2 separate regions of the Homo sapiens genome follow, and region 1 is linked to region 2. Evidence: fine-mapped expression QTL. A gene starts in region 2. The other region holds a variant in brackets. All regions are shown on one strand. Distances are between the middles of the regions.

What was found. PIP is the estimated chance that this variant, and not a neighbour inherited with it, causes the effect. A credible set is the group of variants that fine-mapping cannot tell apart.
Region 1: its variant is the best candidate, but not a certain one, in a credible set for the expression of IQANK1 in cerebellar hemisphere (GTEx, PIP 0.58).

Annotation. Positions count from the first base shown.
Region 1 is chr8:143,706,713-143,712,069 of GRCh38, reverse strand. It overlaps CCDC166 (coiled-coil domain containing 166), which reads left to right and starts at 3,961. Exons shown (of 2, transcript NM_001162914.1): 1 at 3,961-4,404; 2 at 4,501-5,357. The coding sequence starts at 3,961. LOC101928160 (a long non-coding RNA gene) reads right to left here and starts at 4,019. Exons shown (of 6, transcript NR_134306.1): 1 at 3,934-4,019; 2 at 2,762-2,817; 3 at 1,255-1,322. The variant T/C (reference allele first, on the strand shown) is at 3,243.
Region 2 is chr8:143,731,514-143,736,870 of GRCh38, reverse strand. It overlaps IQANK1 (IQ motif and ankyrin repeat containing 1), which reads right to left and starts at 2,732. Exons shown (of 14, transcript NM_001381874.1): 1 at 2,652-2,732; 2 at 933-1,021. The coding sequence starts at 1,017. It overlaps FAM83H (family with sequence similarity 83 member H), which reads left to right and starts at 3,092. Exons shown (of 5, transcript NM_198488.5): 1 at 3,092-3,180. MIR4664 (microRNA 4664) reads left to right here and starts at 3,718; the gene lies at 3,718-3,788. RefSeq lists an enhancer at 3,858-4,152 and a silencer at 4,029-4,239.

The DNA of each region.
Region 1 (5,357 bases), 25 kb after region 2:
CAGAGGCTGCTGGGAGGGCTACACTCGGTGTGCCAGGCACACAGCCCCACCCCCGTGGCTACGCTCAGTGCAGGGCTCACCCCAGTCTCAGGAGATGAATCAGGCAGGACATGCAAAGCAGTAGGGGCGGGAAGACAGGGGCACGGTGGGCGGGGCCACCTGGGGAGCCTGTGGGAGCCCACAAGCCCCAGGAGCAGACCCAAGGTGGCCCTGTGCTGCAGCCTTCAGGGTCCCCAGCAGGGCCCAGCATAAGGGGCTGGGGGGCAGGAGGGAGGCTGGCCTGGCTGCGGAGGGGTGGGAAGGGAGGCTGGCCTGGCTGTGGTGAGGGTCCGGAGGAGGCTGGCCCAGCTGTGGTGGGGAGGAGGGAGGCTGGCCCGGCTTTGGGGCGGTGGGGCAGGCGGTGAAACGAGGGAGGCTGGCCCAGCTGTGGTGGGGAGGACGGAAGCTGGCCCGGCTTCGGGGCTGTGGGGAGGGCGGTGAAAGGAGGGAGGCTGGCCCAGCTGTGGACGGGGAGGGCCTCACAGGGAGCAGACAGTGCCCCTCTTCCCAGGGCCTTTCCAGTTTGCCAGCCTGTATCTGAGGGGGGTGAGACTGCAGGTCCTGGGGGGACAAAGACCACCATGCCACTTGAGGAGGCCTGCATGGCCTCGGGGGAAGACCCCCGAGGGTGGGAGGTGTGTCACAGGAAGTGAGTTCTGTCCCCATGGATGGTGCAGGACCTGGTGAACCCCAGAGACCGCCTGCCTTCCTAACACAATGAGAGAAAAGCCTGGGGGATCCTGGGGAGGCATCTGAGCCCGCCCCCAAGGCCAGGCTCTCCCCACTTCCCCGCAAAGAATCGCCCCATGCAGCGTGGCCCCCCAGCAGAAACCAGGTCTCCTCCTGCCCCTCATCCCTGTTGGTCAGAGGCACAGCTGGGCAGCTGGCAGCCAGACCCGGGTCAGGGCAGAAGTTAAAGCGCTGGGCTGGGCAGAGGCCTGGGGGGGTGGGGGTGTGGTTGCAGGGACAGGAGTGTCCGCACTAGACTAGGGCTGCGGTCGGGGCTCCCCCAACTATTCCATGGAGTTGGTGGGTGAGGCAGGGGTTGCAGAAGTGGGAATTGCAGAATTGGGAAGAAGAAAGCCTCCAGGACGCCTCGACAGAGGAGAGCAGGAGGCTCCCAGATCTCTCTGTGAGGAGGCATTGGTGAGATTTAAAGCAAAGAAAAATCAAGAAACCCACAGGCAGGGATGACTTAAAACTTAAAAACCTTACCTCACCAGGGATTTAAAGGCCAAGAGCAACCGAGACCCTCCAGTGGCAGATGCGCGGGTGCAGTGGGGCTGGGAGTAGGGGAAAGAGCAGTCCAGACCCTGGACGTGGCGTGGCCTGGGATGGTACAGGGTCTGAGACTGTGGGGCACCCGACTGGCCCATGTGAGCAGGCCTCTGCCTATTGCTGCCTCAGTTTCTCAATCTGTCAAATGGGGACAGTGACCCCACACAAGGCCTGAGGGTAGCAGGGTGGAGAGCACTGGGGTGTGGCCATGGCAAGGAACCAGAAGAGGCAACGCTGGGCATTAAGCACCCCTACACATGAGCCTGCCCCCCACCCCAGATGAGTCCCTGCTGCAGTTGAGCCCCTGCTGCAGGGATGCAGGGATGCAGGGTCATGTTTTTCTCATGATTCTATGTGGTCTTTTCCCAATTTTCTGTGACAGGAGAGGCACCATTTTCATATTAAAAGCCCATATATTAAAGCCAACATTCAGATGCAGTTTAGTTTATAAGTCAATGTCCTCTTACAATGTTAATGCTTTGTTTGGTAGTTTGTGTCCTCTTATTTTTACTTATAAAATACTTTTTTTTTTTTGAGACAGAGTCTCGCTCTGTCGCCCAGGCTGGAGTGCAGTGGCGCAACCTCGGCTCACTGCAAGCTCCGCCTCTCGGGTTCACGCCGTTCTCCTGCCTCAGCCTCCCAAGTAGCTGGGACTACAGGCACCTGCCACCACGCCTGGCTAATTTTTTGTATTTTTAGTAGAGACAGGGTTTCATCATGTTGGCCAGGATGGTCTGGATCTCCTGACGTGATCTGCCTGCCTCAGCCTCCCAAAGTGCTGGGATTACAGGTGTGAGCCACTGCGCCCAGCCTAAAATACATTTTTTTACAAGGAGTAAAATGCCTCAATCGTGTTCTTAATTTTAAAAGGCTCTGCTGCACCTTTCAGGCAGGTTGGCTGATCAGAGCAAGCCCAGCCATGTCCATGAGCCACCAGACGACCTCCACCACAAACCTCTGTGCAAATGTGGTTTTCTAAACTGTGTCCCTCACAAAGATCCTCAAATCTGCCCACATCCCAGCAAATGTGGACAAACTGGGCAGAAACTCAACTCTATGATGACAGAACACAAAATAGGGGTCGATTTAAGTTGTGTGTCAAAGGCTGCTGGACACACTGTTCCTGAGGCATCTAACAGAACGGGAGCTGGGGACCGCTGGTCTAGACGGAGGCAAATCTTACAGGACCAACAGGTGGTGATGCCTGCTGTGCAGTAATGACCAATACATCAAGACAGCAGAGTTTGCAGCAGAGAAAGTGTCATGATCCCCGGACACCGAGCAAGGAGATGGGAGGGACCTTCAAATCCATCTCCCTGAGTTCTGGGCTGGGGTTTTTAAAGGGATTGTGGCGGGTGACGGACTGTAAAATGGGGTCATCAATTGGCCGGGGAAAGGGGATGAAGTCCTCAGGATGTGTACCCTGCGTTCTTTGGCACATTACCTCCTCGTGGGGTGCTTCAGACCAGCTGGGTCAGTCGCTTCATGGGTGTGCAGGACCTGTCAAATAGAAAACCTCACATTTTACTATGTTTAAGTTGTTACCTATAGAGCAGTTATGGGGACCTCTCATCTTGTGACAGGGTCTGTGTGATTCTGGGGCCACAGGCACCAAACAGCTCTGAGGAAGGAGTTGGGAGGCAGGCTGACCTCACAATGAATGCTGAGCGAGCTGCAAGCTGGGTTTGTTTTCCTTTCTCGCCTCCCTTCTTCCCTGATTAATAAAGTCTATAGGAATGGTTTCAATAATGATGTTGTGTCCACAAAGTCAACAGAAAAGGAGAAAAAGCCAGCCCTTTTTGGATCCCTATGTCCTCCAGCCATCCGGGCACACGGGGAAGGGAAGCTACCCAGCTGCAGAGCCGCGGATGAGCTGAGCGGGTGCCGCACGCGCGCGCTTAGGACCTTCAGAGAGAAACGCTCTC[T/C]AGGCGCCCAGTGGACTCCATACTTCAGGAACCCCAATTCCCACGGGGGCCTCACCGAAGGAATCACGAAATGCTCAGGGAAAGCAAGGGTCCCTGAAGAGGCGAATGCTCCAGGGAAGCGCTCCCTCCTGACAACACAGAGATTTCACTCGGGAAACGGGGGGGAACGTGGTGAAGCTCCTCTTCAAGTGGGGGACAACCCGGGAGAAGGCCCGTTGCTGAACCGAAGGCGAAGGGCGCTTCTGGGGTCTGTGAGATTCAGAAGCACGTCCGGAGTCCGTCTGAAGCCCAGTTTTGTCAGCTCAGGCCCTATCTCTGGGGGCACATTCACAAGCAGTCACGGGCGACTCAAGATGAGAGAGTTGTGCGGAATGAAGGAGTCGGCCATCGCCAGAGTAACGGGGTGGGGGTGGGAGAGGACGAGTAAGTTCTGTCTCCATAGAGACCGTGCCCGCCGAGCAGCAACATTACTAATGTTAGGCGCACCCAGACGGACAGCGAAGGTCCAGCGGGAGCCCACGAGTGAAGGTTGGCAAAGCTGCCCTGACCCGCGACCCAAAGCCCCGATCTGCCTCCCCAAAAGCCTCGTGACCCCGAGGCGCGTCCCACCTCTGGGCCTGGCGCCTAGAATATTTAGGCCAGGTAAGAGGAAGGGCTAAATTGGGGAAGGGGCCGGGGTCGCTGCCCTCACCAGTCCTGGTGGTCCAGGCACCAACCCATGGCGCCCAAGAAAAAGCGCGGGCCGAGCGCAGGGAGCCAGCCAGGTGGTGCGGCGGCCGCGGGTGCCGAGCAGCCGCTATCGGAGCGCGCGCAGTACCTGCAACGCGAACACGCGCTGCTCTCGGAGCAGCTGGACACCTGCGAGGAGAGCGTTGACCAGGTGCTGCGAGAGAACGCCTTCCTGGACCGCGAGGCGCTGCGCCTGCGCGAGGAGAACCGGCTCTACGCCAGCTACGTGAGCGCGCGCGCCCAGCGCTGCGCCAAAGCCATCGTCCGGCTGGACGAGCAGAACCGCGTGGACCTAGCGCAGATCCACTGGCAGCGGGCGGAACTGGCCTCGCTCTACCACGGGCGCGAGGACGGGGTGCGCGCGCAGCTGTTGGAGATGGAGGCGCGCGCGGCACAGATGGCACAGCAGGTGCAAGAGCTGCAGCCCTACAAGGCCAGTGAGCCCGCCCGCGGCCGGGGTGAGGCGGGGCGGGGCTGGTGGCCGGGCCGGGGGCGGGGTGGGGGTGAGCTGACGGCGCCCCCGCCGCAGGTGCTGCAGCTGGAGCAGCTGGCCCGGATCCGGGCGCTGGAGCGCGAGCTGCTGCATATGCGCGTGGAGCACACGCAGCTGCTCCACCGCGTGAAGCGGCGCTTCCTGGAGGACAAGGCGGCCTTCGAGCGCGAGGCGCGTCAGCGCGTGCAGTCACTGGCGCGGCGCGCGGAGCGGGAGGCGGTGCGCGCGCTTGTGGCGCACACGCAGGCCATCAAAGCGGACAACGGACGCCTGCGGCAGGAGCTGCTGCTGCTGCTCCGCCGGACCCAGCTGCTGCACCACACGCGGCGCCAGCTGCTGGAACAGCGCGAGCAACTGCACCGCGAGCACGAGGACACGCGGGACCTGGCGCGTGTGCACGGCTGGCTGCGCAGGGGCCCCGGAGGCCCGCCGCTCTGGGAGCGGCCGGCCTTCTCCCAGCCCACCTCGCGCCCCGGGTCATTAGCCGCCCCCATAAGCCCGTCGCGCGCGGCCTCCCAGACCCCGTCTGTGGTACCGTCGCGCGCGGCCCCCCGGGCCTCGTCCGTGGTCCCGTCGCGCGAGGCTTCCCGGGTCCCCTCGTTGGTGCTATCGAGCATGGACTCCAGGGTCCCATCGCTGGCCACTTCAAAGGTGGGATCCCGGATGCCATCCCTGACCGCTTCGCGCGCAGGCTCCCGGGCCCTGTCGCTGGTGCAGTCACTCGAGGGCTCTGGGATCTCTTCGGGGTCCTCACCGAGGGTGTCCTCACAGGACACTCTCCGCTCCACGAAGTCTGGCCCCAAGCTTCTCTCTGGCCTGTCCCGGGATCGGGATCCGGCTCTTCTCCCCCCACAGTCGGAGGACAGCGTGAACGCTGAAGCTGCGGCAGAAGC
Region 2 (5,357 bases):
TGTGTTCACAGCCAGCATAGAGAATAAATGGGAGCTGGAGCAAGGGAGTGACAACAGTGAAGGCGGGGCTGGGGTGGGGGAGGGTACTGGGGGAAGTCTCCTTCCTGACCCACAGGAAAACCCAGCCCAGGTGAGCTGTCACCATCCAACCTGGAAGTGACTATGGAGAAGGTGACTGGGAGCAAAGCCGCAGGCAGAGGGCAGCACAGGATGGCCCAGATGGAGCAGAGAGTCAGAGAACACATGCTTAGACTGAGAATCCCCAACTTGGACTCAAACCCTCCTGTTTCAAAACCCATTTTTGGCCATCTAGGCGCCTCCCACTGGCTCCTGCCCCCTTCCCACCTCCATGTGTTCCAAAGCTGGGCTTCTCTGAGTGCTACCCCTAGGCCCCCACCCCAACCCCAGGGGTATAAGATTCAGGCTTGGCCGGGCATGTGGCTCAAGCCTGTAATCCCAGCACTTTGAGAGGCCGAGGCGGGCGGATCACCTGAGGTCAGGAATTCAAGACCAGCCTGGTCAATGTGGCGAAACCCCGTCTCTACTAAAACAAAAATACAAAAATCAGCAGGGCGTGGTGGCGCACGTCCATAATCCCAGCTACTCGGGAGGCTGAAGCACAAGACTCACTTGGACCCAGGAGGCGGAGGTTGCAGTGAGGAGGGATTGCGCCATTGCACTCGACTGGGTGACAAGAGCGAGACTCCGTCTCAAAAAAAAAAAAAAAAATAGATTCAGGCTCAAGGTCTGAGATGAATGAATGGGCTCTGAACCCTCAGTCAATCACACCTAATCCCAACTCAGAGGTCCCCTAAAAGCCACTCTTGGAAGAAGGGCTCTCCTCAGAGGGGGTGTCTCTCGGTGGCTACATAGAAGGTCTCACAGGTCAGTGTCTGGGTGACAGTGCTCTGGAGGTCAGAGGGTGCACTTACCAGCAGCAGCTCTTGTCTTGGGCCCAGGGTGGAGCGTCTGCCACTTCCCAGCTGCAGCTTTGGGTCTCCCCTTCTTACTGTCCATTCTCCTGGGGGGTGGGTAGGGAAGGACCAGGGAGAGGGTGCTCAGAGTGGCAGAGGGCAGGGGCAGTGGCAGTGGGGAACAGGGCACACCATGGGCGCCTGAGTGGATGACAGCAGGAACATGGGCTCCCCTGAGGCTTCCCAGCTGGTGTCCTGTCTGCCTGCCCGCCCCGGGTGTGTGCCCAGAAGCTTGAGCCGGGATGCCTGGCAAGAGCACTTGGCCACCTCCCGTCCCCCTGGCCGTGGCTTGCCTGCCCCTCCGCCCCAGGCTCAGCCCATCCTGCCGGGCGCAGGATCTGGAGTCTAGCACTCTTCTCCCTGCCCCAAGCTGCTGGGTTGCCAGTGGGCCGGTCTTTGTTCTCACCGTAATCATGAGCATGGCCCTCTCTGCTGAAGCCTCCATGCCTCTCCACTGCCCTGGGAAGCCAGCCCACCCCTGAGCCTGCTCCCCAGCCCACCCAAGGCACTCACCCCTCCACACCCTCAGACCTTATGTGGTCCCGGCTCTGGCAGATGGTGGTGTCAGGCCCTGGAGCAACACCCCTCTCCCTAGTCCACACAGCTGACCCCCAAGTTCATTTCCCTGGGAGGCTCCTCCTGCCTGCCCCAGCCTGTCCGGGTCCTCCCCGGTGCCCCATGCCCCTCACCCGCTGCAGCACAGTTGCCTGGGCACTGGTCTGACCCCCCACCCATGTTTCCAGCATGCTGGTACCAGTGGGGTGGCACTGAGTGTTTGGGGAAAGAACAAATGAAACTGGGACTGACCCTGAAAACAGAAAATAGGATCACATGGCAAGAGGAACAAAGAGAAAGGCGACTGATGACCATCAGAAAGGGTTGAGGCAGGGCCAGTCCTTGGGGTGGGAGTGGCAGGGGCGAGGGGTGGTGGTTTGGACAGATGATCCAGTGTAGGGCAGGGCCTAAGAGGGGGAGGGGCCCTAAGTGAGGGCCTGAGGGGGACCTGGGGGACTGGAGCACCCAGGGGCAGCTCGGGGTGGTGTGTGGGGGTTGCTGTGTACATGGGGGGGCGTCTGGTATGAGGCTTGGTGTGCACACTGGGTCCCTTGTCCGTTGGGGCTTGGTTTTTGCAGAGTCCCTGTGTGTACACAGGGTTCCGTATGTGAGGGAGGTCCCCTGTGCTCTCAGAGTCAGTGTGAATATGGCATCCCCTGTTTGTGTGTGGGGTTGGTGTCTGAGAAATCTCATATGCAGGTGGGGTTCCCTAGGTGTGCGGATGTCAGCGTGTTCGTGGGTGACTGGCATGGGCAGGACTCGGTGTGCTTGTGGCTTCTGTCTTCCTGAGGAGTCTCCTGTGCTTGGGGGTTGGTGTACATGAGGCACAGGTCATTCGGGGTCCGCATGTGCATGGGGGGGTCACTGCGGCAGAGTCCCCTACAAGTGTGGGCATCGGTGTGAGGGGGTGAGGGAGAAAGATGGGGGACCCCAGGTACTTGTGGGCATCAGTGTGTGTGGTGGGGGTTGGGGTCTGGGGGTCCTCTGTGTGGGCGGGGTCCTCGTCTACGTGTGGGGCGCTGGTGCGGTGGGAGACCGGTGTGTGGTGAGGGGATCCCCTGTGCTCTCGGGGCTCCCAGACCCGGCCCCGCCCGGGGCTCGACGCCGCCCCACCGTCCTCACCTGTCGCACCTGCCTCCCCCAACTCGGCGAGGAGGCCAGAGCTCCGCCCCTGGCGTCGGGCTCGCTCGTTTCCTAGCGACTGAGCCGGAACTTCCGAGTCACCCCGACTTCCGGGGCGAGGGTCAGGGGTCAGGCTGGGAACTTTGAGCCTTGGGTCAACAGTTGGGCTCCCGGGGGTCGGGGTCTTTGAAGTGCGGGCCTCACGGTCTCCGGCGGCGCTGGGCCGGGGTCTCCGGGCGCGCGGCCGCAGGGCACGGGCGGGTCGGGGCGCGGGCCGGGGGCGCGGGCTGGGGCTGGCGGCGGGCGCGGGGCGCAGGAATGCGGGCGCGCCGCGGGTGGGGCTGCCCCGCCCCCAGGTGCTGCCCGGGCAGGCAGGAGGCAGGAGCGACGGGCGGGGCGGGGGCGGGCGCGTGAATCAGGCCGGGCGGGCCGCGGCAGGGAGTGGCTGCCGGACCGACCGGACCGCGAGGCCGCTGGGCGGCGGTCGGCTCCTGCTGCCCCTGTGCCGAGACCCCGCGCACCTGGCCAGGTAGGGCCCCCCTCCCCCGGCCCGAGCGGGGCGGGGCGAGGCGGGGGGCGGGCGCCCCTTGGCGCGGTCCCACTTGGGCTACCCTTGCGCCCACACCTGGGCCGGGGCCGCGCGACCCAGAGAGGGGCGGTGGGAGTGGAGCGCGGCCGCGTGCGCGGGGCCGGGGTGGCGGGGCTGCTCGGACAGGGGGCGCCGCTGTGCGGATATGGACGCGAGCGCCCCCGCACGACGCCGGCCCGAAAAGAGCCGAGGGGGAAGGGGCCCGGGATCCGGGTCGAGCCTGCCCGGCCGTCCCGACTCGCTCCCGCCCTCGCGGCCTAGCTGGAGTCTGGGTGCTGGGCACGGCCTGGACCCTTCCCTGGGGACATCCGCCCGGGCCGCCGTGGACTGGGGTGGCCAGGGTGCGGCCTGGATCCCCGCGTGGCGAGCAGGGCGAGTGATGGGAGTGCTGCCCCTCGCGCCCACGTTCCTGGGCTGGGGTGGGCGGATAGGGCACCCAGCGGCCGCAGCCGCGAGCTCGTAGGGTGCACTGACCCCGTTGGGGGCTGGGGTGCCCACTCCGCAAGTTATCACTGAGCGACTTCCGGTCTGTGAGCCCCGTCCTCCGCACCCCACCTTTCCGCCGCCTAGAGCCTCCGCGCCCTCCTGCGCCCATCGGAACTTGGCACAGGTTCACCCCACTTTGTGTAGGAACTCCAGATCCTTCCATGGGGTCCTCCTTCCAGATACTCAGGAACCCCACTTCCTGCCAGGGTGGAGAGGATGGGGTCCTTGAAGGCCAGCTGAGGGCCCTGACTTCGAGTCAGAGGTCAGGGGTCAGCAAGCAGAAGAGTGGATTCGTGCTGAGTCATTGCCCATGGGTGGGTTCCGCGCCCTCCCTCCCTTGGGCAGACGTTTGGTAGGCAAATGTGTGGGCATGCAGGCCACTGGGGTGCTCCATCTTGGGCTCGGGAGTGGCTGCAGCCCCGTCCATAGCCCAGGAGACACGTACCCATGAAAGGAGACGACGTGAGGAATGAAGCAGTTGGAGGTCTGGGCATCACCCTGTGAGGACGAGGCATGTCTGCTGGGAGGGCTCCTGGCCACGGGGGCTTCCACTGTCTGGATGGTCCCTGCCCCCATTACACACAGCCTGGAGCCTGGACACTGAAATCCAAAGGGACAGTGGGGGTCCTTTCTAGAGTGTCCCCCCAGTGTCGGGAAGTACCCTCAAACAACATCAGCAGGGTTGTTCCCCCTGCCCTGTATGGTCAGACACCGCCCCTACAGACAGGCTGGCAATGGTGAGTGGGCTCCTCGGCCCAGCCAGACAGGCCTACACCTCACCCCCATGTGGTTGGCCTCGATCTGCCCCTGGCACAACCAGAGCGGTGTGCCCTAACCAGCCCCATATGTCAACCATGAGGACGGTGCCCCAACAAAGAAATGTTGGGACAGCTTCTCCCAAGCCGGTTGGCATCTAGGGCTGTTGAGTGGCACCAGGTATTTCCCATGTCTCAACTCCATGTCACCCCCAGGGGCACCAGGCAGGACGGCTGCCTCCTGACCCCAACATTCTCAGCCAAGTGGCTCCGGCTAGCACCCATGTAGTCCAGCTGGCCGGCATCCATCCTGTCAGCGCCCAGGGGCACGCTCCTCTGGGCACCTTCCTAGCCAGGGCCAACATTCAGGAACCTGTGTGCTAGGCGGGGACAGGTGTCCTGCCTCCCTCCCCAACCCGAGGAGCAGTGGGATGGACTGAGCAGTCCCTAGGGCTCTCCTTCCAGGGAGAGGTACCCAGGTAGCTCAGTGACCCTGTGTGCGTGGGCCCTGGGCGCTCCCCATCTGACACCTTTCTGGAGAGGCCAGGCCCCCGCAGGGACCCTTTGGAGAACAGAGTGGGCTGTGGGGCAGCCAAGCATGGATGGTGGTGGCGAGCCCAGGACCTGGAAAGGTCCCTGCTGCCCTGGATGGGGGCTGGTGGGGACAGGACTCTGAGCAAGTGGAGAGCCAGATTTGGGCGATGTGGAGTGCAGGCCCTGCAGGGCCCTGTGGGCACCAAGGGGCTGTGGCCCAGGGAGGTTTTATCTGAGAGGGACAGTGACAAGAAAGAGGTCAAAGGTAGGCCAAGGGAAGGAGGGGGTGCTGGGAGACAGGGACGGAGTCTAGGGATCAGTGTTCCAGGACTGGGCGGTCAT